Linked DNA regions of Homo sapiens: all the other regions are reported to be linked to region 1. The links are microRNA targets in miRTarBase. Many come from high-throughput screens and were not tested one by one. Region 1 holds a microRNA gene; each other region holds the end of a gene's coding sequence. Distances are between the middles of the regions.
What was found. The annotated mature microRNA hsa-miR-6873-5p reads CAGAGGGAAUACAGAGGGCAAU and lies in region 1 at 1,560-1,581, shown strand. An mRNA with a match to its seed (bases 2 to 7 or 8) in the 3' UTR can be bound and repressed. Matches are read on the target gene's strand: a 7mer-m8 pairs with bases 2 to 8, a 7mer-A1 pairs with bases 2 to 7 and ends in A, and an 8mer does both.

Region 1 (7,717 bases):
AGAATGGAAGAACCCGGAGTCCCAGCGCGGCTTGTCCGGGGTGAGCGTGGGACCTGATGGGTGGCGAGGCAGGCCGCCTCGTTCCTTGAGAGTGAGAGGGTTGGGGTCAATCCAAGGCTGTCTGCTAATTGCGTCCTCCTTTCCCCTAGACCCAAGATCCATTCCCAGGCCCCGCCCCCGTCCCTGTGGAAGTGGTCCAGAAGTTCTGTCGCATTGACAAATCCCGAAAGGTGAGGTCCAGCCGGAGAGTTGGGAAGTGCTGGAGGCAGGGAGTGTCTGGGTGAGTTGGATGGAGGCTGGGACAGGTAGCTCTCCTGTGACCCCACTTATCCTGTGGTTCTTCTGCCACTCCTCCCCACCAACAATGTTACAGCTACCACATTCTAAAGCCAAAACTCGAAGCCGACTTGAGGTGGCTGAAGCTGAGGAAGAGGAAACAAGTATCAAAGCTGCTCGTTCTGAGCTGCTGCTTGCTGAAGAACCTGGGTGAGTGAGCCCTAATCTGGACCCCCATTCCCTGCCTTTTGGGACTGTCTTTTCTCGTTTTTATGTTGGTATACTTGCTTCATATTGGGAAGCTTTACTGCCATCCTAACCCTTGCTTTCAGGTTTCTGGAAGGGGAGGATGGGGAAGACACAGCAAAGATATGCCAGGCTGACATTGTGGAGGCTGTGGACATTGCAAGTGCAGCCAAGGTGAGCCTGAGGAGGTAAAGGAGCCAAGGGATTGATTGGTGGTGCAGGACAATAGAGGAATGGGGGCTAGAAGAAGGCGTTACTGCAGGGCACTCTTTTTTTTCACTCTTCTCTTTCCCAGCACTTTGACTTGAATCTGCGGCAGTTTGGACCCTACAGACTAAACTACTCTCGAACTGGAAGGTAAGGTTGAATTCTAGTGACTCTTGAACTAAGATGTGTTTCCTTAACCACTTCAGCCATTCCCAGTGTATGTTTGGGTTGCTGATGAGGGGAGGGTCCTTCGATTTGCTTGGGTGTGAGGGTAAGCACCTACAGCAACATGTGTCTGCCCGCCTGGAGAGATGGGGCTGGCGTGGGGCAGACCTCAAGTTGTCTGAGTCGGTGGTCCCCTGCCTTAACACCCTGCCTGCCCCTCACCTCCAACAGACACCTGGCTTTTGGAGGGCGCCGAGGTCATGTGGCTGCCCTTGATTGGGTAACAAAGAAGCTTATGTGCGAGATCAACGTCATGGAGGCGGTGCGGGACATCCGGTCAGTGGCCTCACTGTCAGCGGTCAGTTGGGGTGAGATAGTCCATTCCTGATTGAATGATAGCCTGTGACCTCATTTCCCAATTGAACCACTCTTCCTCTCCCCCAGGTTTCTCCATTCTGAGGCACTGCTTGCTGTTGCTCAGAACCGCTGGCTCCACATCTATGACAATCAGGGCATTGAGCTCCACTGTATCCGCCGCTGTGACCGAGTAACACGGCTTGAGTTCCTGCCCTTCCACTTCCTCCTGGCTACAGCTGTGAGTGGCCATGGAGCTCAGGAACTGGTTGGAAGCCCTTGGGATGACCACCTCTCCTTTAGGACCCCAGCAGAGGGAATACAGAGGGCAATCAGGACTGGGTCATTCTCTCTGTCTTTCTCTCTCAGTCAGAAACAGGGTTTCTAACCTACCTGGATGTGTCAGTGGGGAAGATTGTGGCAGCTCTGAATGCTCGAGCTGGGCGGCTCGATGTTATGAGTCAGAACCCTTACAATGCCGTCATCCATCTCGGACACAGCAATGGTCAGTACCTGGCTTAGTTTTGACTCTGACCATCCTGACTTGCTTTTCTTCTATATTTGTACTTCATGAGTCCCTTAAAGTTACCCTTTTATTTCCCTTTTTTGTTATCTCTTGGTCTTGAGTTCCCATCTTTCCCATGTTTAGTAACCTCAGGCTTAGGTGTGTATTAGCAACTTTGGTTCTTCTTCTCTTCCAGGTACTGTGTCTTTATGGAGTCCAGCTATGAAGGAGCCACTGGCAAAGATTCTCTGTCATCGTGGTGGGGTCCGGGCTGTGGCAGTAGATTCTACAGGCACGTAAGTCACTGGTGGGGTGAGGTGTTAGGAGTCATAGGTGGGCAGAAAGGTGTGGAAGGCAGTGTGCTTTAGGAGCACAGAGTCTAAAGCCAGGATGCCCAGGTTTAAATCGCAGTGTTACCACGGATGGGCCTTGCAAGTATAGGCATATTTCATAACCTCTGTGTGCCACAGTTTCCTGACCCCGAAAATGGAAATATGAGTGTCCATTTCAAGGGTCCACAAACTTTTTCTGTAAAGAGTCAGATAGTAAATATTTTATGATTTGCTGATAAGAGGTAAAATCAAAGGGTACCATGTAGGCATTTAAATACCAAGAGAAAACAAATTATCACAACTTTTTTTTTTGAGATGGAGTCTCGCTCTGACACCCAGGCTGGAGTGCAATGGCGCAATCTCAGCTCACTGCAACCTCCACCTCTCAGGTTCAAGTGATTCTCCTGCCTTGGCCTCTCGAGTATCTGGGACTACAGGCGCCTGCTACAACACCTGGCTAATTTTTGTATTTTTAGTAGAGACAGGGTTTCAGCATGTTGTTCAGGCTGGTCTCGAATTCCTGACCTCAAGTGATCTGCCCGCCTCAGCCTCCCAAAGTGCTGGGATTATAGGCGTGAGCCACTGCGCCTGACCTTTTTTTTTTTAAATCTTTTGAGAGAGACGTAGTCTTGCTCTGTCTCCCAGGTTGGAGTGCAGTGGCGTGATCTCGGCTCACTGCAACCTCCGCCTCCCAGATTCAAGCGATTCTCCTGCCTCAGTCTCCCAAGTAGCTGGGATTACAGGCACCTGCCATCATGCCCAGCTAATTTTGTATTTTTTTGTAGAGACGGGGTTTTACTGTGTTGGCCAGGCTGGTCTTGAACTCCTGACCTCAGATGATCTGCCCGCCTCGGCCTCCCAAAGTGTTGGGATTACAGGCGTGAGCCACTGCGCCTGGCCCACACATTTTTAGGTTATAAAATTAAACGTAATATGGCCAGGTGCGGTGGCTCACGCCTGTAATCCCAGCACTTTGGAGGCCAAGGCGGGTGGATCGCCTGAGGTCAGGAGTTTGAGACCAGCCTGGCCAACATGGCGAAACTCTGTCTCTACTAAAAATTCACAAAATTAGCCGGGTGTCGTGGCGGGGGCCTGTAATTCCGGCAACTTGGGAGGCTGAGGCAGGAGAATTGCTTGAACCTGGGAGGCAGGGGTTGCAGTGAGCCAAGACTGTGCCATTGCACTCCAACCTGGGCAACAAGAGCAAAACTCCGTCTCAAAAACAAACAAACAAACAAAACATAATATGAGACTGGACACAGTGGCTCATGCCTGTAATCTTAACAGTTTGGTAGGCTGAGGTGGGCAGATCACTTGAGCCCAGAAGTTCGAAACAAGCCATGTCACCCATGACATGGCAAAACTCTGTCTCTACAGAAGATAGAAAAATTAGCCGGGTGTGGTGGTGCATGCCTGTAGTCCCAGCTACTCAGGAGGCTGAGGTGATCCTCCCACCTCAGCCCAGGAGGTTAAGGCTGCAGTGAGCTGTGATCATGCCACTGCACTCTAGCATGGGCAACAGAGTGAGACCCGGTCTCAGAAAAAAAAAATAATAATAATCAAATATATTTGTGTAATACAGATCTACTAATGGGAAGAACTGAATTTCTCTTTTTGAGGTTAACATTTTGCCTAATTGATGTACAAAGTTAGTGTTCCAGATGGTCAAATTTGACTGTAGATATTCATGTTCATGCTGATCTGTAGAGATTGCAAGTATTTCATCTTTGAAAACATCTTTTCACACAGGTAATGATAGGTGATATGTGAGGTGCTTGAAATGCTGTGAAGCACTTACGACTGTGTCACTGTGACTTGTAGTGTACAAAGCAGCAGTGCAAATCAGGATGCTGTAGTCGCTGTCGTGACCACTCGGCTGTGTGTTGTAGAGCAAAAGCAGCCACAGTATTAAGTAAATAGTGTGGCCCCGTTCCAATAAAACTTTATTTGTTGGATATTGGAATTTGAATTTCATACGGTTTTCACAGTCTCAAAATATTCTTTTGATTTTTTTTCAACCACTTAAAAATGTAAAAACCATTCTTGGCTTGTGGGCTATACAGAACTAGATGATGGGCCAGGTTTGGCCCATGGGCAGTAGTTTACCAAGCCTTGGTTTAAAGCCCTCATATAAGCTGTTGTAGACATTAAGATGAGTTAAGGCATATAGTTTAGCACAGCGCTTAGCAAAATAGGGAGCGCTGTGTTCATCATTGTCATTCAAGATGATCGTTCTCTCCAGGTCTGGCTGATGTGAGGGGTGGAGGTGGTGTCTGCTTTGGATTTCTGCTGTTCCTGAGGGAGTATCTGCATTTTCCACAGCTTTTCTGTCTGATTTGTATTTTCCTCTGATTCCTTTTGTCATCAGGTATTCACTGGGCACCTGCTGTGGGCAGGGCTCTGCGCTGAGGTTCTGGAGACAAAAGGATGAATCGTTGAGCCTGCCCTGGTGTGGTGCTCCCGTTATCCTTTAGGTATAAAAACTTGTGGCTATTTTTTTTTTTTTTTTGAGACAGAGTCTTGATCTGTCACCCAGGCTGGAGTGCAGTGGCACAATCTCAGCTCACCACAACCTCTGCCCCCCGGGGTTCAAGCGATTCTCCTGCCTCAGCCTCCTGAGTAGCTGGGATTACAGGCGCCCACGAACCACGCCCAGTTAATTTTTTAATGTTTAGTAGAGATGGGGTTTCACCATCTTGGCCAGGCTGATCTTGAACTCCTGACATCGTGATCCACCTGCTTCGGCCTCCCAAAGTGCAAGTGTTGGGATTACAGGCGTGAGCCACTGCACCCGGCCATGGCTATGGTTTTTGAGAATGATTGGCCAGGTGATGCATTTATTTATTTTATTACTATTTTTCGAGACGGAGTCTTGATCTATCACCCAGGCTGGAGTGCAGTGGCGCGATCTCGGTTCATTACAACCTCCGCCTCCTAGGCTCAAGTGATTGTTCTGCCTCAGCCTCCAAGTAGCTGGGAGTACAAGTGCATGCCACTGCATGCGCTAATTTTTGTATTTTTAGTAGAGATGGGGTTTTGCCATGTTGGCTTGGCTGGTCTCAAACTCCTGACCTCAGGTGATCCACCCACCTCGGCCTCCCAAAGTGCTGGGATTACAGGCATGAGCCACCACGCCTAGCTCAGGTGATGCCATTAGTTTCTACACAGTTATCCTCTGTCATCCCAGACTCAATGTGTCCATCACTGGATAGGTCACCGCCTCCTAAAGTTTCTCTTGACCTGCTCTCATCTCCCAGAATTTTCCTGTCACCCAGAATTTGACTCAGGTACACACCACCACACCTGGATAATTTTTCTATTTTTTGTAGAGATGGGGTTTCACCATGTAGCCCAGGCTGGTCTCTGTCTTGAACTCCTGGGCTCAAGCGGTCCTCCTACCTCAACCTCCCAAAGTACTGGGATTACAGAGTAATTACTGTGAGCCACCACATCCAGCTTGGCCACCAGCTTATTCAAAGTCTCCAGGATGCTGGGACCACCCCCCCCACCACCCGCTCCCTGTTTTTGCATAATTGTATCTTTTTTTTTTGAGACGGAGTCTCACTCTGTCACCCAGGCTGGAGTGCAATGGTGTGGTCTCGGCTCACTGCAACCTCCACCTCCTGGGTTCAAGCGATTCTCCTGCCTCAGCCTCCTGAGAAGCTGGGACTACAGGTGTGTGCCACCACACCCGGCTAATTTTTGTATTTGTAGTACAGATGGAATTTCACCATGTTGGCCAGGCTGGTCTTGAACTCCTGACCTTGTGATCCACCCGCCTGTCCTCCCAAAGTGCTGGGATTATAGGCGTGAGCCACCGTGTCTGGCCTTTGTAATTGTATCTTTGTGAATGAGTGATTTGGTTCTGCCCTTTTTACTCCATATTTATACCAGCCTGGCTCTAGGAGAGTCAGAAGGCCTGCCCAAGGGTTTCTGCCCTCTCTGGGCCACTGGGCCAAAGCTGTAGCTTGCCCTCCGTGGGCTACCTGGGTCAGCCACTCCTGTGCTTAGGGCTTAATCACTAGTTCGCTGAGGCCTGAAGTTTAATCAACACCTTGAGGCTAAACAGCTCTGGTCCTTGTGATCTTCAGCCCATCCCTGCTTTTCTCTGGTCCTCCTCAGGAGCTTGTCAGGCCACGGGGGCTCCAGTGATGAGGCTGACCATCTTTCTTAAGAGGTGTTCTGGTAGCTTGTATTATGATTGGATTGCGTTGACTTCTCAAAGCCGAACTGCTGCTTACTAGTAGTACAGTAGACTCCCATTTGGCACTGGGCTGGTCTTTACCCAGGGGTCCCATAGATGGGTGTGTGGAGGGGAGAAGAGCCAGCATGCATCCTTGAGTTGTTAGTTCACCAAAGGATGTGACCCTGTGTTCCACGAGCGCTCGGTAATTCCTGGTTTGCACTGATGGCCTTTCTCTTTGGTAAAGTCAGGGCGCTGATTATCTTGTCGGAAGTATCCAGCTGGTCCTCTCTTGGGCTCCATCACTGTGCAAGTCTCTGCTCATAAGAACTCTTCAGTTCCCTTCTCCTGGGTTCACAGCCAAGGCAAAAAAGAGACTCCTTGGCCTCTTGGCAAACATACATCCCCTACCTGGCTGGTCCCCCTTCAGCTTCCCTCTCTAAGGAACAACTTGAACATAGAAACTCCAACCTCACCTGTAATCCCAGCACTCTGGGAGGCCAAGGTGGGCAGGTCATTTGAGGCCAGGAGTTCAAGACCAGCGTGGTCAACATGGCGAAACCCTGGCTCTACTAAAAATTAGCGGTGGTGGCGCATGCCTGTAATCCCAGCTACTTGGGAGGCTGAGGCACGAGAATCACTTGAACCAGGGAGGCAGAGGCTGCAGTGAGCCAGGGTCATGCCACTGCACTCCAGCTTGGGCAACAGAGAGACCCTGTCTCAAAAAAAGAAAAGGAACTCCAACTTCTGAAAGTAAACAACTTATGCAGTACATGATTCCTGGAGAGGATTTGGTCACCAACCTTCCCTCCTTCCTTCCAGGGAAAGCACACAGAGGGGCAGGGCAAGGGCCTCCAGTGCATTACTTCACCACTTCCCTGAGTAGGTCTTCTCAAGTCCTTGGAGCCTTCACTTTGTGATTTGTCACTGCCAGAGAGCAATGTTGGGATCATGAGCTGTGGGTCCTCAGTCTGACTTTAAAGAAACCTCACAAATTGTCTGCTCCTGATTTTCCTGACCATGTTTCCCACCAATCCTAACAAACCTCTGCTTCCCTCTCAGTCTCAACACTCTGGTGTTAATGCATTTGAACCTGCTGTGTATCTACTTCCTGTAATTTTTTGAGAATTATCTAGAATGGCTCAAATCCCACCTTTCCCATGAAGCCTTTCTGACCACTGCACATGCTCCTTCCCCTTGCTGGGCTGTGTGCTGCATGTGTGTACAGGGGGACATCACATTTGGGTGCAGCCTGTCGTGTGGGCGTTCCTTTTGACGCCCGTGTCTTGAGAGGGCTGTGTGGTGTTAGCAGGTTAGAGGCAGATGCTAAAGAGACAGGCCTGACCATTCACTGACCTAGCTTTCCTTTCCCTGAGCTTCAGTTTCCTCACCTCTTAAAGGGAAATAAAAATAGTATGAGTTGTGTGCAGCTTAACTGAGAGGATGCCT
Region 2 (7,934 bases), not on the chromosome of region 1:
TGGCCAACGTGGTGAAACCCCATCTATACTAAAAATACAAACAAAACAAAACAAAACAAAAAAAAACAACAACAGGCAAAAGACATGAACAGACGCTTCTCAAAAGAAGACACACAGCCAACAAGCATATGAAGAAATGCTCAATATCAATCATTAGAGAAATGCAAATAAAAACCACAGTGAGGTACCATCTCACACCAGTGAGGATAGCTATTATTAAGAAGCCAAAAAATAGCAGATGCTGGTGAGGTTGTGGAGAAAGGAAGTGTTTAAACACTGCTGGTGGGAATGTAAATTAGTTCAGCTACTATGGAAAGCAATTTGGAAATTTCTCAAAAAAACGTAAAACAGAACTACCCATTCAACCTAACAATCCCATTACTGGGTATATACCCAAGGAATATAATCATTCTACCCGAAAGACATATGCATGTATGTTCATCACAGCACTATTCACAATAGTAAAGACATGGAATCAACCTAAATGGCCATCAACAGTGGACTGGATAAAGAAAATGTGGTACACTTATAGCACGGAATACTATGTAACCATAGAAAAGAGTGAGATAATGTCCTTTGCAGCAACATGATGGAGCTGGAGGCCATTATCCTAAGCAAATTAATGCAGGAACAGAAAACCAAATACTGCATGTTCTTACTTACAAGTGGGTGCTAAACATTTAGTACACATGAACATAAGAAGGAGGAATAGACACCGGGGCCTACTTGAGGGTCAAGGGGGGGAGGAGGGTGAGGATTGAAAAACTACCTGTAATTTTCTTACAAACACCTACTCCAGAAAAAGAGACAAAAACAAAACAAAACAAAAAACTACCTATGTTTATTACCTGGGTGGTGAAATAATCTTTACTCCAAAACCTCCTCAACATGCAATTTACCCGTGTAGCAAACTGGCATATGTACCCCCTGAACCTAAAATAAAAGTTGGAAAAAACAAAATTCATGTTGAAACTTAATCCCCATTGTGGTGGTATTGAGGTGGGGCCTTTTGGGAAGTGATTAAGTCATGAGGCTGTGCCCTCACGAATGGATTATCCACCTTATTAAGGGGCTGGAGAGTAGTTTAGACCCTTTCTTGACCTTCTGTTCCTTCTGCCATGTGAGGATACAGCATTTATTCCCTCCAGAGGATGCAGCAACAAGGCACCATCTTCGAAGAAGGGACTGGGTCCCTCACCAGTCACTGCTGGCACCCTGATCTTGGACTTCTCAGCCTCCAGAACTATGAGAAATAAATTTCTGTTTTTTAAAATTACCCAATCTATGGTATTTTGTTATAGTAGTACAGACCAAGACAGTACACTTACATAATCCAGAAAATATACTCTTAGGTATCTATCCAAAAGAAATAGAAACATGTCTATATAAAGACTTGCAAATGATTGCTCACAGCAGCATTATTCATTATAGATTAAAAACTGGAAGCTACCTAGATATCCATTAACTGGTGAATGGATAAACAAATTATGGTATATCTATTCTACGGAATACTACTCAATAAAAAGAAACACATTATTAATATATGCAACAACATGGATCTCAAAAAATTATGCTTAATGGAAGAAGTTAAATACAAAAGACTGCATACTGTATTGTTCTGTTTATATGAAATTCTAGAAAAGGCAAAAACAGACCTTGAGTTGCTAGCAATGGGGACTGACTATAAAGATACACTATGAAACTTTCTGGGGCAGTGGAAATGTTCTGTAGCTTGAGTATGGTGAAGGTTAATTGACTCTATACAATTACCAAAATTCATAAAACTGTACACTTAAAATTAATTTTGTTGTGTATACCTGAACAAAATGAAAAAAATTTAAATAAAATTATCAAATTGAATTCAGTATATATACAAAATTTATTTTAAAAATGTTTATTTTTAGAGACAGGTTTTCACTGTGTCACCCAGGCTAGGGTATGGTGATACAATCATAGCTCACAGTACCTTGAATGCCTGAGCTCTAGTCATCCTCCTGCCTCAGCCTCCCAAGTAGTTAGGACTATAAGCATGTGCCGCCATACTGGCTAATTTTATTTTTTGTACAGATGAGGTCTTGCTATGTTGCCCATGCCCAGCTGCATACACAAAATAATATGTAGTGATCAAACAGTATTTATTCCAGAAAAACAGTATCAGGGATTTCTGTTATTATAGCCCACTGTATCCAAACAACATGAAAAAATCACAGCAAATACTGATAAAGTATTTGACAAATTCAAAATTTATTCATAATAGAAAATGAACTAATAAAATCTCCATTAACCTGATAAAAGACATTTATTAAAAATCTAAAGGCCAGGCGAAGTGATTCATGCCTGTATATCCCAGCATTTTGGGAGGCTGAGGCAGGTGGATCTCTTGAGTCCAGGAATTCGAGACCAGACTGAGCAACATACATTTTTTTGTCTCTACAAAAAAATACAAAAAATTAGCTGGGTGTGGTGACATGCACGTGTAGTCCCAGTTACTTGGGAGGCTGAGGTGGGAGGATTGCTTGAGCCTGGGTGGTCGAGACTGCAGTGAGCTGAGATTGCACCACTGCACTCTAGCCTGGGTAAGAGAGCAAGGCCCTGTCTCAAAAACAAAACAAAACAAAAAAAAAAACACACAACGAAAACAAAAACCACCTACAGAAATTATCACACTTAATCTCAAGACTTTAGTATTTAAATAAAAACAATACAAGCATGCCTCCATCACTGCTTTTATTCAACACTCTACTGAAGAACTAATCTAATGCAATCGGCAAATATAAGAATGAGACAGGAAGACTAAACTCTTATTTTGCCCCACACTATTCTGTGTTCTACACTTTTTAATTCCCATAATAGTCTCATGATGTAGGATTATGCAAATGAGGAAAGCTGAGGATAAGCAAGTTATCCAAGGTTATACATTAATGTAAGAGCAAAACCAGAATCTGAACCCAGGCAGTGTGGCTAACAGAATCCATACTTTTTACTGTTATGCTATCCCTTCTCACACCTCTCCATCTACCTTGAAAATACAAGATATTCAATACAAACTATTAGAAAGAGTAAGAGATCAAGAATACTGCTGCATAAAATGGCAACATATAAAAATTGATAACTGAGGCCAGGCGCGGTGGCTCACGTCTGTAATCCCAGCACTTTGGGAGGCCGAGGCGGGCGGATCACGAGGTCAGGAGATCGAGACCATCCTGGCTAACACGGTGAAACCCTGTCTCTACTAAAAATACAAAAAAATTAGCCATCTAAGAAAAAAAAATTGATAACTGATAGTGTTCTTTACCCTTGTAACAATTTAAAAATGTCACGGAAAAGATCCCAATCCTGCTACCAAGCAGAAGGGGCTCACTGCCCAATGCTCTAAGCCAATAAAATGACACTGGGTTTTTGAGAAAAGCTTTCTATTTCAAGTGACTTACAAGGAGACAGGAGTGCAGCTCAAATTGCTCTCTCTGTGCTGGTGTTAAGGCAGTGATTTTATCCTTCAGGGGGCGGATTCTGGGATTAGTAGGTGATTGGTGGAAGAGGTCTGGAAAGTTCTTCGGCATGTGTAGTTACCTCTTTATGGGTCCCATGTGCCAATTTGGAGGTAGTTAGTATAAAATATGTGGTGAAACTTTAGGCTGTAACATTAGCAAGCTTGCTGTGTAAACTCTAGTTAGCAATATTGCTTTTAACTGATTTTAGACAGTTTTGTTATAAGGGAGGGGAGTGTTAGTAAGTTGTTTTTTCTTATCTGTTTATCCTCCACACCCAAGAATTTGTTACTCAACTTTTTTTTTTTTTTTAACTCCTTGGGGCATGGTTTCATTCCCAATAGAAAAAACAAAACAAAACACTGTAAGGTGTTCTAACATAAACTGGAAAATTAAAAGCAGTTTTAATATGCTAATGTTAAGTAAAACTACAGTGAACAAAGTACTGTCTATATTATGATTGAATTCATGGGAAACATTTATTTCCGGGCTGAAGCCGAAAAAATACACAAGCTGGGCGTGGTGGCTCATGCCTGTAATCCCAGCACTCTAGGGGGCCAAGGCAGGTGGATTGCTTGAGCCCAGGAGTTCAAGACCAGCCTGGGCAACATGACAACTACTACATGTCTTTACTAAACATACAAAAGTTAGCTGGGTGTGGTGGTGTGCGCCTGCAGTCCCAGCTACCTTAGGAGGCTGAGGTAGACTGCTTGAGCCCAGGAGGTGGAGGATACAGTGAGTTGAGATCCTGCCCCTGCACTCCAGCCTGGGCAACAGGGTGAGATCTTTCAAATTTTGTTACACTGAATATTTTGTTTTCAAGAGTACTCATTAAATCCTGCCCACAAAAAAACACTAAGCTACCTCACCAGTTTCTCCCTTCATCACATGATTAGCAGATCCTTGGCAAGGCTGTTCTGACTCAGCTGAAATATCTTCAGATCTGCAAAGCACAAGGATATAGAGCTAAAATGGAAAGATATTTGCTTCCAGCATTAACAGTACTAAATTCTTTGATAATCTTGAGAATAAAATGCTGATAGGATAAATAATAACATCACACAAAAAGCAAAACACTTTTAAAGTATAAAATAAAAATGTTTTACTACAATTAAAAAAATCAATAAATGAAGAGATATACCATGTTCATCCACTGGAAGACTAAAGAGAGGGAAATTCCAAGTCTTTTCAAATTATTCTATAAATTTAAGGTAGTTCCAATGAAAATCTCAGGATTTACATATCAAATAAATCTGCAAAACAATATTAGACATTTATAGAAACATAAATATTTAGTGAAAATATAAAAACAAAAGAATAAAAGTTTGAATTCATATAATAGTTTCCTATAAGAGGGTACCTTAACTGCCCACAATTTCTTTTTTTTTTGATTTCTTTTCTCTTTAAAAAATAAAGTAAGGGCCAGGCACAGTGGCTCACACCTGTAATCCCAGCACTTTGGGATGCCCAGGCAGGCGGATCACCCCTGAGGTCAGGAGTTTGAGATCAGCCTGGCCAACATGGAGAAATCCCGTCTCTACTAAAAATACAAAAATTGGCTGGGCATGGTGGTGGGAGCCTGTAATCCCACCTACTTGGGAGGCTGAGGAGAATCGCTTGAACCGGGGAGGTGGAGGTTGCAGTGAGCTGAGATCATGCCACTGCACTCCAGCCTAGGCCACAGAGCAAGACTTGTCTCAAAAAAATAAATAAATAAGAGGTCAGGTGCAGCGGCTCACACCTGTAATCCCAGCACTTTAGGAGGTGAAGGCAGGTGGATCGCTTGAGGCCAGAAGTTCAAGACCAGACTGGGCAACATGGAGAAATCTTACCTCTACCAAAATACAAAAATTAGCCAGTCTCATAACCTGGTCTCAAAACAAATACATAAAAATAAAAAAAAATATTTGAAGCAAATATGATAAAGATTTGATAAGACTGGATAATAGGTACAAGTGTATTTTATCATGTTCTAATTTGGTCAGCATGTTTGAAAACCTTCACAATAAAAAAGATTACATCATTCTAAGACTTTACAAACTTTATTTTGAAACAAGCTATAATTACATGAAATTAAGAACAGCTCTAGGGCCAATATTATTGTACTATTTTAGGGTCTAGCAATTACACACTATAGAAGATGGATATTTTATTCTTGCTGTGGATTAAATTATGAAATACTTTTGGGGTGCCTTCTATATTTAAGGTATTCTGGTAGGATATGAAAGAAAAAAATAAGAACTGAATCTAAACTTTCAAAGACTGTACAATATAGATGGTAAACACCCCCTTTAACTTTCAAACATAATGGGCAGATGTTCGTGGTCCAGGGGTAACTTCCTAACTTTTTGACCCTCATATTTTTCTGCATGTAATTTTTTCTTCCTGTACAAAAATATGTTATGTTTTGTTCCTCCCCAATATTTGTGGTCATGTAAAATTAACATTAGCATCAACATTTGTAATAATCTAGAGGGAAAGTGTTTCTAACTAATTCTTACACAAAAATTTCTTTTTGACGGATAAGATGGGACTGGATTTTACTGACATTCACTAAGTATCAGTACCATTCCAGTTAAAAATCAAACAAAATTCTGCAATATATTTTAACCCATGTGAAATGAACTCTGTCAACCGACCCAAGCTGTCAACTTTAAGAGCTCTATCCCTACGCCCATCTAAACTAATATCCTGAAATGAATACATGTTGACAACATATTAGTCTTTATTTATATAAACTAGTTGTGTATTTTTTCTTTTACCAAATTATGAATGCCTAGCACCACTTACAAAATCAGTTGGCCACAAAGTTACACAAAAACTACAATTAGCTTTAAAATTTTATTGAAATTCAAGTTTAGAATTTAACAAATTAATACAATATTACACTGAATACTTTCTAACCAGTAGTTTAGCTTTACATAATTTCTAGGCATAACTTTTAAGAACTGATACTTTCTGGTTAATTTTCCATGATATGCCAATTATACATTCATTAAAATTTCAGATGCTACCTGAATTATTCTTATCTCAATGACAGAATTTAAAAAAATAAGTTCAAATACTGAAAATCTAAGACATTAACACTGGGGCCCTTGTAATATAGAAAAGAAGAAAAATTGTACAATCTTAACTGTTTAAAACTCTTAACGTTTACTGTAGTAACAGAATATGAATTTGTAACATAACCATATGAATTTCTCAAGTTATTTCCTACTGATGCATGTCTGAAGTTATAAAAATCTCTTTTAAACGAACCTATACTGAATTACTCCAAAAATAACAGTGATATTTTAGGGCCTTGCAAATTTATTCTAGTGCATATTTTAAGTACCTAAAGTACAGCCTGTGCACTAGCAGGTTACTGAAAAGAATAAGTGTGGCTTTCTTTTTTTTTTTTTTTTTTTGAGGCAGGGTCTCGCTCTGTCATCCACACTGGAGTTAAGTGGCAAAGTGTGAATTTAAGGAGTGAGTCGTTTGGGATCACGAGGGAACATGGAGGTCTGACGAACATTATGCAATCCCAGAAACAGCATAGTAACTCGTTCCAATCCTGGGGAAGACAAAAATAATCATTAATTCCTTTTTGAAAATCTCTCAGGGTCTTACTTAGAACTACAAACATAAATGTAATCGTTAAACTAAATACTTTTCCTTGTTAGGAAAGAAAATGACTCTTATTATTTTGGGTTTATTTAAAACTGTTTTGAGTATTGATTCAGAAATAAAGATGCTGCTATAAATGAAAAGGACTAAGTAATATATCCTTGAGTGGTATGGAGTCTAAAATGTGAACCACAAAAATCTATACGAATGAACAAAATCTATGATGTAACAATAAGAAAAACAAAACAAAAGACTTTATAAGCTTGAACGTTTCAAATGATACCACACTCTGATTATACAGTCCAGGCAATGAGGATGAGAGCCATAAACTTGCTTAAGCAATAATAGAAGTATGAGAAAATTTACTGTTAATTTTATAGACATTTAACATGGTGGACCCTACGATAAAAAGCTCTGGAGTACATTATTATACTAAGTGTTTTGACTGTAAAGAAGAAACTGATTTTTGGAAGGTGGTTAACAAGATTATGGTCTCTCCTTTCAATTGATTCTATGTAGAGATGTAAAAAGAATGAAAAAGCTCTTCAGGTATTGATAGGAAACAAGTTACAAGATACATTAAAGTATTTCTTCTCCATCCGGACTCATATTAAAAAAATGATACATTAAGTAAAAAATGCAAAGTACTAAATGGTTTATATATAATAGTATGCTACAATTTGTGTAAAAATATTTAAAGAAATGTGTGTGTCTTTTCGTATATGAAAAGGTATCTTTGCAAAGGTTAAGCTGAAAACTAGAAACAATGCTTTCCTGTAGGGAGGCGAATACGCACTATTCTTTTTCCTCCTCCAATTTAAAAAACAGCGTTAAAATACA
Region 3 (7,450 bases), not on the chromosome of region 1:
ATTCCAGTGTTAGCAGTGCAGGAAAGTGTTGCCTGCTGGAACAGGGAAGATGAACTGTTTGCACTGTTAGTAGCTAGTTGGATGGATAGTTCTAAGTGATTACCGTCTAAGCTAGAAACACTTCCCAGTTATTTTTATCTAAGTTCTTTTATGTCCTAGCCCCAACCTAGACATCACAATCTCAATAGTCAAAGCAGCTTTAATCCACCTTTTAATATTTTAAAAGGTGGCAGAAAGTTGTGGGAGGGGAAGAGGAGGTGTTCCCGGATAATTATAAGGTTTCATGGAGAATCTTCTCACTGGTATTATTTCTTCTTTTTACTTCTTTTCTAAAAACATTCTTTAGAAGTCTTAACTCTAATAAATCAAAGACACTGAAAAGCAAATAGTATGAGCGGGTTTTAAGTATATATCTTTTTTTAAATTTTATTTTGTAGGTTATATATCAATTGATGCCATGAAGAAATTCCTTGGGGAGCTACATGACTTCATTCCTGGAACCTCAGGATATTTGGCATATCATGTTCAAAATGAAATTAATATGTCTGCTATAAAAAACAAATTGAAGAGGAAATAGTAAATTAAATTGTAAATACCTTGGCATTTATTTTCTATAAAATATTATACAGATGTGCATATCATAAAATGCTCCCTTTTGGTACTGGGGGATAGTGAAATGGGAAATAATTTTTCTGTTTCTCAAAGTATATCTTTAGGAAATACAGAATCATTTTGGTTCTGTGTTTTGACATTTTTCCCCTAGCTTTTAACAACATGTTCAAATATTCTCAATGCACAGTTGTTAATGAGTAATTGCCGTTAAAATATATTTCATAAGAAGTCTCAATCTCAAACTCTCCATCTCTCAATCCTCCTCCTCCTCCTCTTTCTTGCTTTCTCTTTTCCCTCTCTCTTTCTCTCCTCCCCTTCTCTCTTTCTGTCTTTCAAATGTTCTTTTGGCTTTAACATTCTATTAATTATATTTTTTCTAGATTGAATACTGTGAATGCTAAGTTTTATTAATCTGGTCATCTTATTTTGATTTTAAAAATTAGGATGCTAGTTGCATTCTGAATTACTGTTTCTGGTTTGAAACATGGAGAAAAACATTTTAATAATTCATATTTCATGTTGGATGGTTTCTAATAATAAATATCTCAAAAGTGACTTAACATAAACAGACTATGAGTGTTATGTCTTGTTAGATGAACCTGCAAGTCACCTTAGAATCACAGTTCTAGAATGGAACTTAAAGAACGAGTCCAGTTCACTTATTGTTTTTAATGAGGAAATAAGGACCTTGAGAAGATGTCTTACTTAGGGGGACTAACTGGGGGCCAAAACAGAATTGGAACACAACCATCTTGATTTTCTAGGCAAGTGCTTCCCCACTCTCCCAAATAGCATACGCTGTAGCTTCTGTGCCAGGTACAATACAACTGCAGATCCGCAAAGCAGACCCAGAAACAAGCCAACATGCTTGCCTTTTAATAAGCTGAAATAGTGAGGGAGAAGAAAAGGAAAAATCAGTTAGGCAGACCACTAAGGCTAGTCTTCTGAGAAAGAGCCTGAAAAAATCACAGCTACAGGCATAAATAGAGCAGCCTGGGGAAAAACCAAACTGCACCTGCACTGATAAGAAGGCAAGGCCCAGCATAGAGCCTTTGTTCTTTGTGTGATTAGCAGGCTCTCAGGAAAAAAATTCCTCCCATTTTCAGGCATTTACATGGTGGGCTCTGTGGGAACTTGCACAGGGAGGTGAGGGGCTTGCCTAAAACAGACCCACAGTTACACAAACAAGAGAAGCTGCACTTTGTGCTTACCCAAGATATACAAAGATAAGGAGAGTTACATACACAGCTTCATAGATAAGGGAAGTTACACAAACAGCTACAGAGTTGAGGGGAGTTTCACATAAAAGCTTTTGGATTCAACTGTAAAAACAGCAGCTCACTCGGGTCCGTTCTCCACTGTGGAGAGCTTTCTTTCTTTTGCTTATAAAAGTTTTGCTCCAACCTCACCCTTGTGTCCAGCCTCCTTAATTTTCTTGGTTGTGAAACAATGAGCTCAGATAACACCTCAAACTACAAGACCATTGACCCTAGACAGTTTCATTAGTATTGAGTTGTAGTCATTTCAAGAAGGCAGTTTGTTATCTTTATTCATATGGCCATGCTATATAGAGTCTGATTGGTTTATTACATTTTTGTGTCTTATAAATGACAGTGTTATTTGTGAAGCTATCATCTTAGAACTGTACTTCTTCCAAGCAAGTGAATACCAGCTGTAGAATTATCTAAAGAAAATGCACACTTTTTTTTAGTGCTTGGACCATTTGGGTATATGTGGGCCCTGGCCCTGGCCCTTCTCCCCTGACTCAAATTTCATAAGACAAAATTTTAACACTACTTTTGGCATCAGCATTTGAGAATTATATTTTTCCATATGATAACTTTTCCTTATTTATATTCACATCTGTGGTTAAGCCCTTCAGATCTTGTAAATTACACAAAAAACAGAAAAGACAAAAACCTTAAATGTTAATTATCTTTCCCTGAAACACATTTCTCCTGAATACTTTATCGTAGTTACATACCATTGATTGTTTCTTGTATAGAAACCAAGCCTGTCTGTAAATCTTAAATTAATGACTAAGAGGATTAAGTAAATGTACACCAAGTTGTGTATGTTGGAATTTCTTGAAAGAGAGTATCCAGTATTTTTCTGATATATTATGCATGTGTAAATTAAAAATTATAATGAAACAGTTTTTTAGGTTTGTTTCCCAAAGTGATTATATCTTTAGGTGTATATAATAAAGCAAAATGTAACCTATATCCTTGAAATATTGTCAGGCACAATAAAATCAGTGATAACATAAGCCTTCCAGGAATTAGAAGCATATGAAAAAATAAAATAAGCAAAGTTGAACTAGTTTTAAGTTTATTGTCTTAATGGGAAGTGAAAAGCAATATGATCTTAGTTACTGCTCATGTAACCTTTTTTAAAAAATTGCTTTAATGTAGCTGATGGATATTGCCTCTGAATATCCTTATAAAAAATGTTCTCTGGCCGGGCACGGTGGCTCAGGCCTGTAATCCCAGCACTTTGGGAGGCCAAGGTGGGCAGATCATGAGGTCAGGAGATTGAGATCATCCTGGCCAACAAGGTGAAATCCCGTCTCTACTAAAAATACAAAAATTAGCTGGGCATGGCGGCACGTGCCTGTAATCCCAGCTACTCAGGAGGCTGAGGCAGGAGAATCCCTTGAACCTGGGAGGTGGAGGTTGCAGGAAATAATATGGAATTGTAGTAGAGATAAAAGAAATTAATAAAATAGGAAACAAACTTACAATAGAAATGATCAACAAATCAAGAAGTTGAGTTTTGAAGACTAAAAGAAATTTATAAATTTCTGACTGGATTGGCCAAGAGAAAGAAAGAAGGCACAGATAATATCAAAAATGAAGAGAGGAATACTTCTCAGATTCTAGAGACATTTAAAAAAATTATGACCAAATTAATGTCAATAAATTTGAACATTTACATGAACTATTTAAATTTCTAGGAAATATATCTTACTAAAACTGCCATGAAAAAGAGAAAATCTGAGCAGTCCTTTAACTGGGAAAAATAGTGATTTTATAATATTAAAAATCTTCCTACAGCCCCACTAATTACTAGATTTTGTCATCTTAGTGAGCTATGTAACTTGTTTCCGCATCTGAGAAATGAAGATAGTAACAATGCCATAGTAATATTGAAGGATTAAATGAGAAAATGCCTGTAAAAGTGCATTGCACAGGGCCTAGCATTTGCCACATGATCAATGCAGCTTGCCTTTATTAGTTTCCTTTACAGCTATGGTGTATCACTGAGTGCAGAATGTGTGTGTTCTTCAGGCTCCCTTGTGTGCAGGCTCTGAAAGGTAAAGGGGCCTGCTCTTTGTTCTGAAGTAAAACTGCTCAGGGCATTAGGTGGATCTGAAATTTAAAAATAAAATTGAAAGTAAATCAATCTTTTCCTTAAATCAGATTGTCTCTGCTTTTGTTTTGCACACCTGCCTCAATATCAGTCTTGGAATTTTTTTCCTGCTGTTGTGGGTGCAATTTTTGTGATATGTACAGAACCACCTACCCTACTCCAGGCCTTGGATCCTGACCTTAGTGGCTTGGAAAAGGCTGTCACTTAGAATTTACACTCCAGTCCTCACTATCACTGTCTCCATTCTTCTTCCATCTCCCCACCCTGGGGTGATTTCCCAGCCTGCTATTTGATTTTCCATTCGTATGGTTCCCCTAATCTCCAGAGCATGTAGTACTCACTAGCCAGAGTATTGCCCATGTCTTCTGTGTTACATAAAGTTATTCCCAGCGTATCTGATCTCTTCTCATCCTTTCTCTGTCACTCGGGGGCTTTGCTCAACCTGGTTGTGTCACAATCTTTTTTTTTTCTTTTTTCTTTTGAGATGGGTTCTCGCTCTGTCGCCCAGGTTGGAGTGCAGTGGCGCGATCTTAGCTCACTGCAACCTCCCCCTCCTGGGTTCAAGCCTTCTCCTGCCTCAGCCTCCGGAGTAGCTGGGACTACAAGCGCCCGCCACCACGCCCAGCTAATTTGTGTGTGTCTGTGTGTGTGTGTATTTTTAGTAGAGACGGGGTTTCACCATGTTAGCCAGGATGGTCTCGATCTCCTGACTTCGTGATCCACCCACCTCGACCGCCCAAAGTGCTGGGATTACAGGCGCGAGCCAACGCGCCGGGCCGGTTGTGTCACAATCTTTAGGAGATTCCCTCTTTCTTGATCAGAGAGCCCTTCACTCCATTCCTTGCCTCTGCAATCATGAGGGTGTGACACAGATGAAGGTGTGACACAGATCTCATCTCTTCCTGGAATTCCCAATCTCAAGAGCTTTTCTTCATGGTGTTGCTGACTTAAACGAGGGTGCCTGCCAACTGTGGGGCCCTCACCCCATTTAAAGAGGTTCGTTTCCTTGTCACAGTGTTGTGATTTATTTCACTTTGCTCTTATCTTTAAAATCGGGTTCATTTCCTTGTCCTACTTAGGCTCCTCACCATACCTACTCTGTATTGTGTTTCTTCTTCATTTGTCAGATTTTTTTTTTTTTTTTTTTTTGAGACAGGGTCTTGCTCTATGGTCAGGCTGAAGTGCAGTGGTGCGATCTCGGCTCACCGCAACCTCTGCCTCCTGGGGTTCAAGCGATTCTCCTGCCTCAGGCTCCTGAGTAGCTGGGACTACAGGCATGCACCACCAAGCCCGGATAATTTTGGTATTTTTAGTAGAGATGGTGTTTCACCATGCTGGCCAGGATGGTTTGTGTCTCTTGACCTCATGATCCACCCGCCTCGGCCTCCCAAAGTGCTGGGATTACAGGCGTGAGATACCACACCCAGTCCATCTGTCAGATTTTTAAAAGCTGTTTCTTTCCCTCTCTCCATTCCCACCTGTCCAAATCCTGTCCTTCTTTCAGGCATCATCTCAAAGGATATCTCTGAATGAAACTTCTTTGGCAACCTCCTCTTCTTGCCCCCTCTCCCCACAGGACTCTAGTCCACTTAGAGCACTTAGGTTACTCAAACTAAAGTTATAATTATTTGTGTACACCTGCCAAAGGCCCCTACTACATTGTTAGGTACTTGAAGGCAAGGATTATTTCTTACTAATCTTTGCAGCTCCCACAGCACCCAGCACAGTGCCTGGAATATGGGAGTTACTCAGGAACTATTTGATGAATTGAATTCATACATGTAAGGATACAGAAGATAAAGAAAAGTATTTCCTTCAGTTTCCAGACTGGGACCCAACAGTGCCCTGTTTCACTGTTTATTAGGAAGCAGGTTGTATGGACCTGGAGGTGCCAGATAAAACGAAGGCTTCCATAATACACATTCATTCATCAACCCTGCTAGGGTTGTCTCATTCATTCATTTACGCACTCATTCAACAAACATTTGTTGATGACACAGTGCTAAACTCACGCTTTTTTTTCTTTTCCTGTAAAGTGAGATAACAGGGAGTGGGACCCTTCCATTAAGGCATTTATAATCTGGTTGGAGAGTTGGAAATATAAACAACTGACTGTAAGGCAAAGTGAAGTAGGTGCTAGAATAACATATAGGTCAAATTCTCTGAGAGCACTAGTCCTTGGTTTCTGCAGGGCAGAAAAGAGGGATATCGGAAAAAATCAGGATGGTTCAGAAGAAGGGTAACTTTGTTTTTCCTGGTGGACTCATAGCATCACCATGATAACAACAACCAGGCCCTGAAAGGGGGAAATCCTGTCATTTCCAGCAACAACATGGATGAGTCTGGAGGTCATTATGCTAAGTGAAATAAGCCAGGCACAGAAACATAAATACCACATGATCTCACTTATATGTGGAATCTAATAAAGTTGAACTCATAGAAGTAGAAAGTAGAACAATGGTTAACAGAGGCTTGGGAGAAGGTGGGGAGGGAGAGAATGGGGAATTATTGATTAAAGGGTACAAAATTTCAGATAGACAGGAGGAACAGGTTTTGAGATCTACTGCACATCAGGGTGACTATAGTCAATGGTAATATATATTTCAAAATAGCTACGAGTAAATTTCAAATGTCTCACTATAAAAAATAATAGGTAAGTGAAGTGATGGATGTGTTAATCAGCTTGATTTAATCATGCCAATTGTATACATACATCAAAACATCACATTTTACTCCATAAATATATACAACAAAGATTTGTTAAAAAAAAAAAAAAAACGTGAGCGGTCATTGTGGCTCACACCTTTACAGGTTCCCAGCATTTTGGGTGGCCCAGGCAGGAGGATTGCTTGAGGCCAGCCTGGGCAACATATTTTGTTGCCGTATATGAAAAAAAAAAGTCCCCCTGAGCTTTTCTGGCCCACCTCTCATGAAATCCCTGGCACTGTCTCTGCATTTGATGAGAGTGCGAGGTAGAGTGGGTAGGAGCAGGCAAGTCAAGTTGCTGTAGACCTGTGCTGTCTAATATAGCAAGATGTAGCTAGTGGGCACTTGAAATGTGGCTAGTCTGAACTGAGATGTATTAAGTGTGAAATACACCTTGGATTGTGAAGACTTAGCACAAAAAAAGAGTTATTTTTATTTTTATTTTTTGAGACAGAGTCTCACTACATCACCCAGGCTGCAGTCCAGTGGCACCATCTCTGCTCACTACAACCTCGTGCCTCTCAGGTTCAAGTGATTCTTGTGCCTCAGCCTCCTGAGCAGCTGGGATTATAGGCATGTGCCACCAAGCCCGACTAATTTTTGAATTGTATTTGTATTTATTTAATTTTTATTTTTTGTTTTAATTTTTGTATTTTTAGTAGAGGTGGTATTTCACCATGTTGGCCAAGCTGTTCTCAAACTGCTGAACTCAAGTGATCTGCCAGCCTCGGCCTCCCAAAGTGCTGGGATTACAGGTGTG
Region 4 (7,979 bases), 130 Mb from region 1:
AGCCACTGCGCCCAGACCAAAAGTTTTTTTAAATGGATGTTTTACAGATAGAACTAAATTCTTCATTTACCTCACTTAATTTCTGAAAACACTGTGTCCTCCAACTGCTCTGTATTCCCAAAGATTAAAATTAGCCTTGGGGAGCAGAGCTGGTTCCTCGTAAACCCCTGTGAGTGCCCAGACCCTTTGGAGGAGGTTCTCAGTGGGCTTTTGCCTGCTCCCACAGATGTAACCCACCCTTCCTGCTGCTCCTAAGACCACCATGAGGAAGGCTGGGAATTGGCTCTTGAATTAATTTGTTGGTATTTTTAAGAATAGCTATTAAAGTACTGTTGTTAATTTTCCCAAGTCTATTTTATTGTTAGTATTTGTCACATTTTCTTTGTAAACAGTGAATTAAAAATATTTTATAGGAATATTCATTCTTATCTAGATTTCCTACTTATATAAAAAAACAAGTGAATGAGATTGTTACAAAGGGTAATTTTGTGTGAGTAGAATAATAAAAGTTGAAATTGAGAAGATGCAATGTTTTAGACTGAAACTGATGGTTGGTTTGTTTTCCCCTTCTTTCTAACAGGCCTTATTCCACTGCTGGGGATTGATGTGTGGGAGCACGCTTACTACCTTCAGTATAAAAATGTCAGGCCTGATTATCTAAAAGCTATTTGGAATGTAATCAACTGGGAGAATGTAACTGAAAGATACATGGCTTGCAAAAAGTAAACCACGATCGTTATGCTGAGTATGTTAAGCTCTTTATGACTGTTTTTGTAGTGGTATAGAGTACTGCAGAATACAGTAAGCTGCTCTATTGTAGCATTTCTTGATGTTGCTTAGTCACTTATTTCATAAACAACTTAATGTTCTGAATAATTTCTTACTAAACATTTTGTTATTGGGCAAGTGATTGAAAATAGTAAATGCTTTGTGTGATTGAATCTGATTGGACATTTTCTTCAGAGAGCTAAATTACAATTGTCATTTATAAAACCATCAAAAATATTCCATCCATATACTTTGGGGACTTGTAGGGATGCCTTTCTAGTCCTATTCTATTGCAGTTATAGAAAATCTAGTCTTTTGCCCCAGTTACTTAAAAATAAAATATTAACACTTTCCCAAGGGAAACACTCGGCTTTCTATAGAAAATTGCACTTTTTGTCGAGTAATCCTCTGCAGTGATACTTCTGGTAGATGTCACCCAGTGGTTTTTGTTAGGTCAAATGTTCCTGTATAGTTTTTGCAAATAGAGCTGTATACTGTTTAAATGTAGCAGGTGAACTGAACTGGGGTTTGCTCACCTGCACAGTAAAGGCAAACTTCAACAGCAAAACTGCAAAAAGGTGGTTTTTGCAGTAGGAGAAAGGAGGATGTTTATTTGCAGGGCGCCAAGCAAGGAGAATTGGGCAGCTCATGCTTGAGACCCAATCTCCATGATGACCTACAAGCTAGAGTATTTAAAGGCAGTGGTAAATTTCAGGAAAGCAGAAGTTAAAGGCAAAATTGTAAATCAGTCGAGATCGGGTGCCTTCAGGGTGGTATGGCTGTATACCAAAATTGTAAATCACTACATGAAGCTTATATATTGGTTTGGCCTGAAAGGTGAAGTGGGGTAGGCAGGGGGCGGGCTTACAGGTTATGGTGGATTCAAAGACTCCCTGATTTGTGATTGGTTAAGGAAGCAAAGCTTTGTCTAAAAACTTGGGGTCCGCAGAAAGGAACATTAAGGTCTGGCCAGGCCCCTCAGGAAGAAACTGAGAGCAAAGAATGGAGGTCAGAGTTTAGTCCCTGGTGTTCCCCCTTATCTGACGTCTGTGTGAATCCATTTGGTGGGGGTCTGGGTTTCTGAAAAGTAGCTCAGGGGCACGTGTTAAGGATGTCTCTAGGTGACTCTAACTTCCCTGGCTATTGTTTGAAACTGTTATGACCTTCTTGCTTATCAGCTTGCTGGTTTCCTTCTCGGGGCGAGCTGGGTGCCTGGAGTTTTCGGTGAAGGAAACTCAAGATTCTCCTTTATTTCTGTGCTTGTGGGAATCCCCCTGGCACACCCCAAAGAGGGGTCCCTGCTCCGTCTCACAGGGATCTTTTTGTATATTTGGCTTAGCATCATACATTTGCCATGTTGTTTCATCATCTGCCTAATTTACTGTTTTTGAATATTTCATTTGTTTCTAATTGTTACTACAGATAATGCTGGGGTGAGCAACTCTGTGTACATAGGTTTATCTCCTATTGGAATATTTTCTTTATATAGGCGTTTTTTTTTTTTCTTTTTTTTTGGAGACAGAGTCTTGCTCTGTTGCCCAGGCTGGAGTGCAGTGGCGCGACCGGAGCTCACTGCAACCTCCACTTCCCGGGTTCAAGTGATTGTCCCACCTCAGCCTCCTGAATAGCTGGGATTACAGGTGCATGCTACCATGCCTGGCTACTTTTTGTATTTTTAGCAGAGACAGGGTTTCACCATGTTGGCCAGGGTGGTCTCGAACTCCTGACCTCAAGTGATCCGTCTGGCTCAGCCTCCCAAAGTGCTGGGATTACAGGTGTGAGCCACTGCACCTGGCCTATATAGGCTTTTTTCTTAAACCTATTTAGTAATGTTTTCCCAAGTTTATTTTTTATTTTTAATTTTTTCCCCAAGTTTATTTTTCTATTTTTTTTTCATGGAAAAATGGGGTAACTTAGCAGTTTCAATATTGAAGACTGAAGTTTAAAAAAAATTTAAATTCAAGGTACTTTTAAAATTCAGTTAGAAAAGTAGGCTTTAAAAATTATTAGAGACAAGAGTACCAAAGCGGTGTGTGTATGTGTGTGTGTGTATGCATGCTTGTGGATTGGAAAAACTTTGGAGACTGATTACTTTTCATTATATATGTGTCACAGTGAAACAGCTTTTATGTGTCATGTAAGATTACTGCTTGCCTCTCTAAGGAAGGTCGTGACTGTTTAAATAGACGGGCAAGGTGGAACCTTTTGAAAGATGAGCTTTTGAATATAAGTTGTCTGCTAGATCATGGTTTGTATTGAACTAACAAGGTTTGCAGATCTGCTGACTTATATAAAGCTTTTTGATTCCTACTAAGCTTTAAGATTTAAAAAATGTTCAATGTTGAAATTTCTGTGGGGCTCTATTTTTGCTTTGGCTTTCTGGTGAGAGAGTGAGGAAGCATTCTTTCCTTCACTAAGTTTGTCTTTCTTGTCTTCTGGATAGATTGATTTTAAGAGACTAAGGGAATTTACAAACTAAAGATTTTAGTCATCTGGTGGAAAAGGAGACTTTAAGATTGTTTAGGGCTGGGCGGGGTGACTCACATCTGTAATCCCAGCACTTTGGGAGGCCAAGGCAGGCAGAACACTTGAAGGAGTTCAAGACCAGCGTGGCCAACGTGGTGAAACCCTGTCTCTACTAAAAATACAAAAATTGTTTAGCTCTGTTTTTCATAATAGAAATAGAAAAGGTAAAATTGCTTTTCTTCTGAAAAGAACAAGTATTGTTCATCCAAGAAGGGTTTTTGTGACTGAATCAGCAGTGCCTGCCCTAGTCATAGCTGTGCTTCAAAAACCTCAGCATGATTAGTGTTGGAGCAAAACAAGGAAGCAAAGCAAATACTGTTTTTGAAATTCTATCTGTTGCTTGAACTATTTTGTAATAATTAAACTTTGATGTTGAGAAATCACAACTTTATTGTACACTTCATTGCAACTTGAAATTCATGGTCTTAAAGTGAGATTTGAATTTCTATTGAGCGCCTTTAAAAAAGTAATACCAAACCATAAAGTTAAAATCTATGTATATTGAGTCATATCTAAAACCACGTATAAACATAAATTGTATTTCCTGTTTTAATTCCAGGGGAAGTACTGTTTGGGAAAGCTATTATTAGGTAAATGTTTTACAAATTACTGTTTCTCACTTTCAGTCATACCCTAATGATCCCAGCAAGATAATGTCCTGTCTTCTAAGATGTGCATCAAGCCTGGTACATACTGAAAACCCTATAAGGTCCTGGATAATTTTTGTTTGATTATTCATTGAAGAAACATTTATTTTCCAATTGTGTGAAGTTTTTGACTGTTAATAAAAGAATCTGTCAACCATCAAAGAGGTCTGCATTATGCTTGCATGTCAAAAACTTTAAAAATCCTATAATCTTCTGTCATTTTCACTGAGTTTCCATGGGAAAGGAATAGTAAATAATGGGTAGTTGAAATATTACTCTTAAGACCAAGACCTGTATCTCCAGTCATATCTGTAATAACATCATCTGATAACCTAAAAGCATAGTATTAGGGATATACGACAAAACCAAAGTGTTTTTGCTGTTGTCACATACCACTCAATACTTTTACACCAGGTTGTCCAGTGGACACCAGCTGGATGTCCTATAATTCAATTCTGACACTGTCTACCTGGAATTGGAGTCAGATCCCACAGGTGGAGGGCTCAGCCCACAAGACTGCCCCCACTCCAGATACCAATCGCAAGTCCCTATACTTCTGACTGGCTATAAAGTGGGGTTCCCGTGACCCTTTCCTTGGTTTTGATTTATTTGCTAGAGCAGCTCCCAGAACACAGAGAAACACTCTACTTATGTTTACCCATTTTTAATTTTATTACTTTATTAAAACTACATATTGGTTACAATACTAATTTATTGTAAAGGATATTTCATTTATTTATTTTTTTATTTAGAGATGGAGTCTCACTGTGTCACCCAGGCTGGAGTGCGGTGGCACAGTCTCAACTCACTGCAACCTCCACCTCCTGAGTTCAAGCGATTCTCATGCCTCAGCCTCCCAAGTAGCTGGGATTACAAGTGTGCACCACCATGCCCAGCTAATTTTTGTATTTTTAGTAGAGATGGGGTTTCACTCTGTTGGCCAGGCTGGTCTCAAACTCCTGACCTCAAGTCATCCACCCACCTCAGCCTCCCAAAGTGCTGAGATTACAGGTGTGAGCCATTGCCTCTGGCTTGTAAAGGATATTTCAAAGAATACAGATGAACAGCCAGATGGAAGAGATGCACAGGGCAAGGCATGTGGGAAGGGGTATGGAGCTTTCATGCTCTCTCCACGTCATCAGCTACCCAGAAGCTCATCTGGACCCCGACCCTTTGGGGTTTTACGGAGGCTTCATTATGTCAGCATTACCATTGGCAATTGGCGATTAACTCAACCTTCAGCCTCTCTCCCCTTTCTGGAGGTTGGGGGTTGAGGCTGGGAGTCCAAACCCTCCAATCTTGCCTTGGTCTTTCTGGTAAGCAGCCCCCCGTCCTGAAGCTACCTAGAGGCTCCCAGCCACCAATCATTTCATTGGCAAACCAAAGATACTTCAAGGGGTTTAGGAGCCAAGAGACCAAGCAAGGATTGAGACAATATATATATTTCTTATAAATAACATGATCACAAATAGTATTTTATATATTTCTCATAATAGCTGGTTGTGGTTACTCACACCTATCATCCCAGCTACTAAGAAGCTAAGGCAGGAGGATCACAGGCCCAGGAGTTTGCAGCTGTAGTGAGCTATGATTGTGCTACTGCACTCCAGCCTGGGTGACAGTGTGAGACCCTGTCTCTTAAAGTTCTTGTAACATCTTAGAACATTAACCAACCACAGATTATTGCCTTAACTCTGAAAAATAAAGTAATCATACTTTTACAAGATGTATTTTACATAAAGTTCTGGTGATATTTTACTCTGGTCATTGGAATATAGGAGCTTACCACCTGGTACCACTCTTCCTAAAGTGGTATACTATTTGGTATAGTACTGGCATACTATTTGGAAAGGGATGTGAAGTTGGCATGACCTGTCTAGGGTGAAGTCATGCTGTCTGCTATTCATTGTGGGCTTTACAGTAATGAGAGTGCTTCTGTTGTCAAGATGCTTCTGGGACACGTTAAAAAAAATTTAAGATTTCTCAGTTTGTGAAAAGGAAGGAGCACGAATGCTTTCAAGTTCCTATGACATGCTAGTCATCTTTCAGTGTGTCCCATTGTTGCACCCAGTAGTCTCGATGCCCAGCGTCACGGTGATTCCAAGTTTGCCTCTCTGCCCACTATAATTTGTGCTCCATGAAGTCCCAGGACATGAGGTTCTTGTTCATTTGTGCGTCTGGGCCCATATCCAAATATTAAACAATGTGACTTAATGTATTTATCATATTGTAAATATGGGTATCCCCAAGGCTCAGAAGTTAACACAGCATATCCACAGAGAGGTTTGACAGCATGGCTGTGGTGACTGGGAAGGCCTTATGCTTGCTCCTCCTTCTGCTGCTTGCCTTTGTGTGGGCATGGAAAGAACATTGAATTAGGTACTGGAAGACCTGGGTCCTGGTCTTGGAGATTTTACCAGAGCACCTGTGGGATATTGGTCAAGATGCCTGGTTTTAGTCCTGCTCCTTTGCTGTGAAAGAGGATCTTAAGGTGCCAACTCTGGCATTTTATTTTTTACTTATTTATTTTTAAATTATACTTTAAGTTCTAGGGTACATGTGTACAACATGCAGGTTTGTTACATGTATACATGTGCCATGTTGGTGTGCTGCACCTATTAACTCGTCATTTACATTAGGTATATCTCCTAATGCTATCCCTCCCCCTTCTCCCCACCCCTCGACAGGCCCCGGTGTGTGATGTTCCCCTTCCTGTGTCCAAGTGTTCTCATTGTTCAATTCCCATCTATGAGTGAGAACATGCGGTGTTTGTTTTTTTGTCCTTGGAATAGTTTGCTGAGAAGGATGGTTTCCAGCTTCATCCATGTCCCTATAAAGGACATGAACTCTTCCTTTTTTATGGCTGCATAGTATTCCATGGTGTATATGTGCCACATCTTCTTAAACCAATCTATCATTGATGGACATTTGGGTTGGTTCCAAGTCTTTGCTATTGTGAACAGTGCCACAATAAATATACGTGTGCATGTGTCTTTATAGCAGCATGATTTATAATCCTTTGGGTATATACCCAGTAATGGGATGGCTGGGTCAAATGGTATTTCTAGTTCTAGATCCCTGAGGAATCGCCACACTGTCTTCCACAATGGTTGAACTAGTTTACAGTCCCACCACCAGTGTAAAAGTGTTCCTATTTCTCCACATCCTCTCCAGCACCTGTTGTTTCCTGACTTTTTAATGATTGACATTCTAACTGGTGTGAGATGGTATCTCATTGTGGTTTTGATTTGCATTTCTCTGATGGCCCATGATGATGAGCATTTTTTTCATGTGTCTGTTGGATGCATGGATGTCTTCTTTTGAGAAGTGTCTCTTCATATCCTTCACCTACTTTTTGATGGGGTTTGTTTTTTTCTTGTAAGTTTGTTTGAGTTCCTTGTAGATTCTGGATATTAGCCCTTTGTCAGATGAGTAGATTGCAAAAATTTTCTCCCATTTTGTAGGTTGCCTGTTCACTCTGATGGTAGTTTCTTTTGCTGTGCAGAAGCTCTTGAGTTTAATGAGATCCCATTTGTCAATTTTGGCTTCTGTTGCCATTGCTTTTGGTGTTTTAGACATGAAGTCCTTGCCCATGCCTGTGTCCTGAATGGTACTGCATAGGTTTTCTTCTAGGGTTTTTATGGTTTTAGGTCTAACATTTAAGTCTTTAATCCATCTTGAATTAATTTTTGTATAAGGTGTAAGGAAGGGATCCAGTTTCAGCTTTCTACATGTGGCTAGCCAGTTTTCCCAGCACCATTTATTAAATAGGGAATCCTTTCCCCATTTCTTGTTTTTGTCAGGTTTCTCAAAGATCAGATAGTTGTAGATGTGTGGTATTATTTCTGAGGGCTCTGTTCTGTTCCATTGGTCTATATCTCTGTTTTGGTACTAGTACCATGCTGTTTTGGTTACTGCAGCCTTGTAGTATAGTTTGAAATCAGGTAGCGTGATGCCTCCAGCTTTGTTCTTTTGGCTTAGGATCGTTTTGGCAGTGCAGGCTCTTTTTTGGTTCCACATGAACTTTAAAGTAGTTTT

Region 2: the mRNA of DARS1 is a reported target of hsa-miR-6873-5p. Seed matches in the 3' UTR shown: 8mer at 5,959-5,966.
Region 3: the mRNA of TERB2 is a reported target of hsa-miR-6873-5p. Seed matches in the 3' UTR shown: 7mer-m8 at 904-910.
Region 4: miRTarBase lists SOD2 as a target of hsa-miR-6873-5p. The part of its 3' UTR that is shown has no 7-base or 8-base seed match.

The regions. Positions count from the first base shown.
Region 1 is chr6:33,281,127-33,288,843 of GRCh38, reverse strand. MIR6873 (microRNA 6873) reads left to right here and starts at 1,555; the gene lies at 1,555-1,617. WDR46 (WD repeat domain 46) reads left to right here. Exons shown (of 15, transcript NM_005452.6): 2 at 1-40; 3 at 150-230; 4 at 374-486; 5 at 609-696; 6 at 818-879; 7 at 1,126-1,230; 8 at 1,339-1,489; 9 at 1,618-1,753; 10 at 1,950-2,049. RefSeq lists enhancers at 1-10, 545-1,078, 1,079-1,612.
Region 2 is chr2:135,900,367-135,908,300 of GRCh38, forward strand. It overlaps DARS1 (aspartyl-tRNA synthetase 1), which reads right to left. Exons shown (of 16, transcript NM_001349.4): 16 at 5,515-7,041. The coding sequence ends at 6,950. Among named protein-coding and RNA genes, the nearest start is that of MCM6, 28 kb to the left of the region's middle.
Region 3 is chr15:44,978,052-44,985,501 of GRCh38, forward strand. It overlaps TERB2 (telomere repeat binding bouquet formation protein 2), which reads left to right. Exons shown (of 7, transcript NM_152448.3): 7 at 438-1,178. The coding sequence ends at 577. Among named protein-coding and RNA genes, the nearest start is that of TERB2, 25 kb to the left of the region's middle. RefSeq lists a silencer at 2,027-2,227.
Region 4 is chr6:159,675,240-159,683,218 of GRCh38, reverse strand. SOD2 (superoxide dismutase 2) reads left to right here. Exons shown (of 5, transcript NM_000636.4): 5 at 581-7,979. The coding sequence ends at 726. Among named protein-coding and RNA genes, the nearest start is that of SOD2, 14 kb to the left of the region's middle.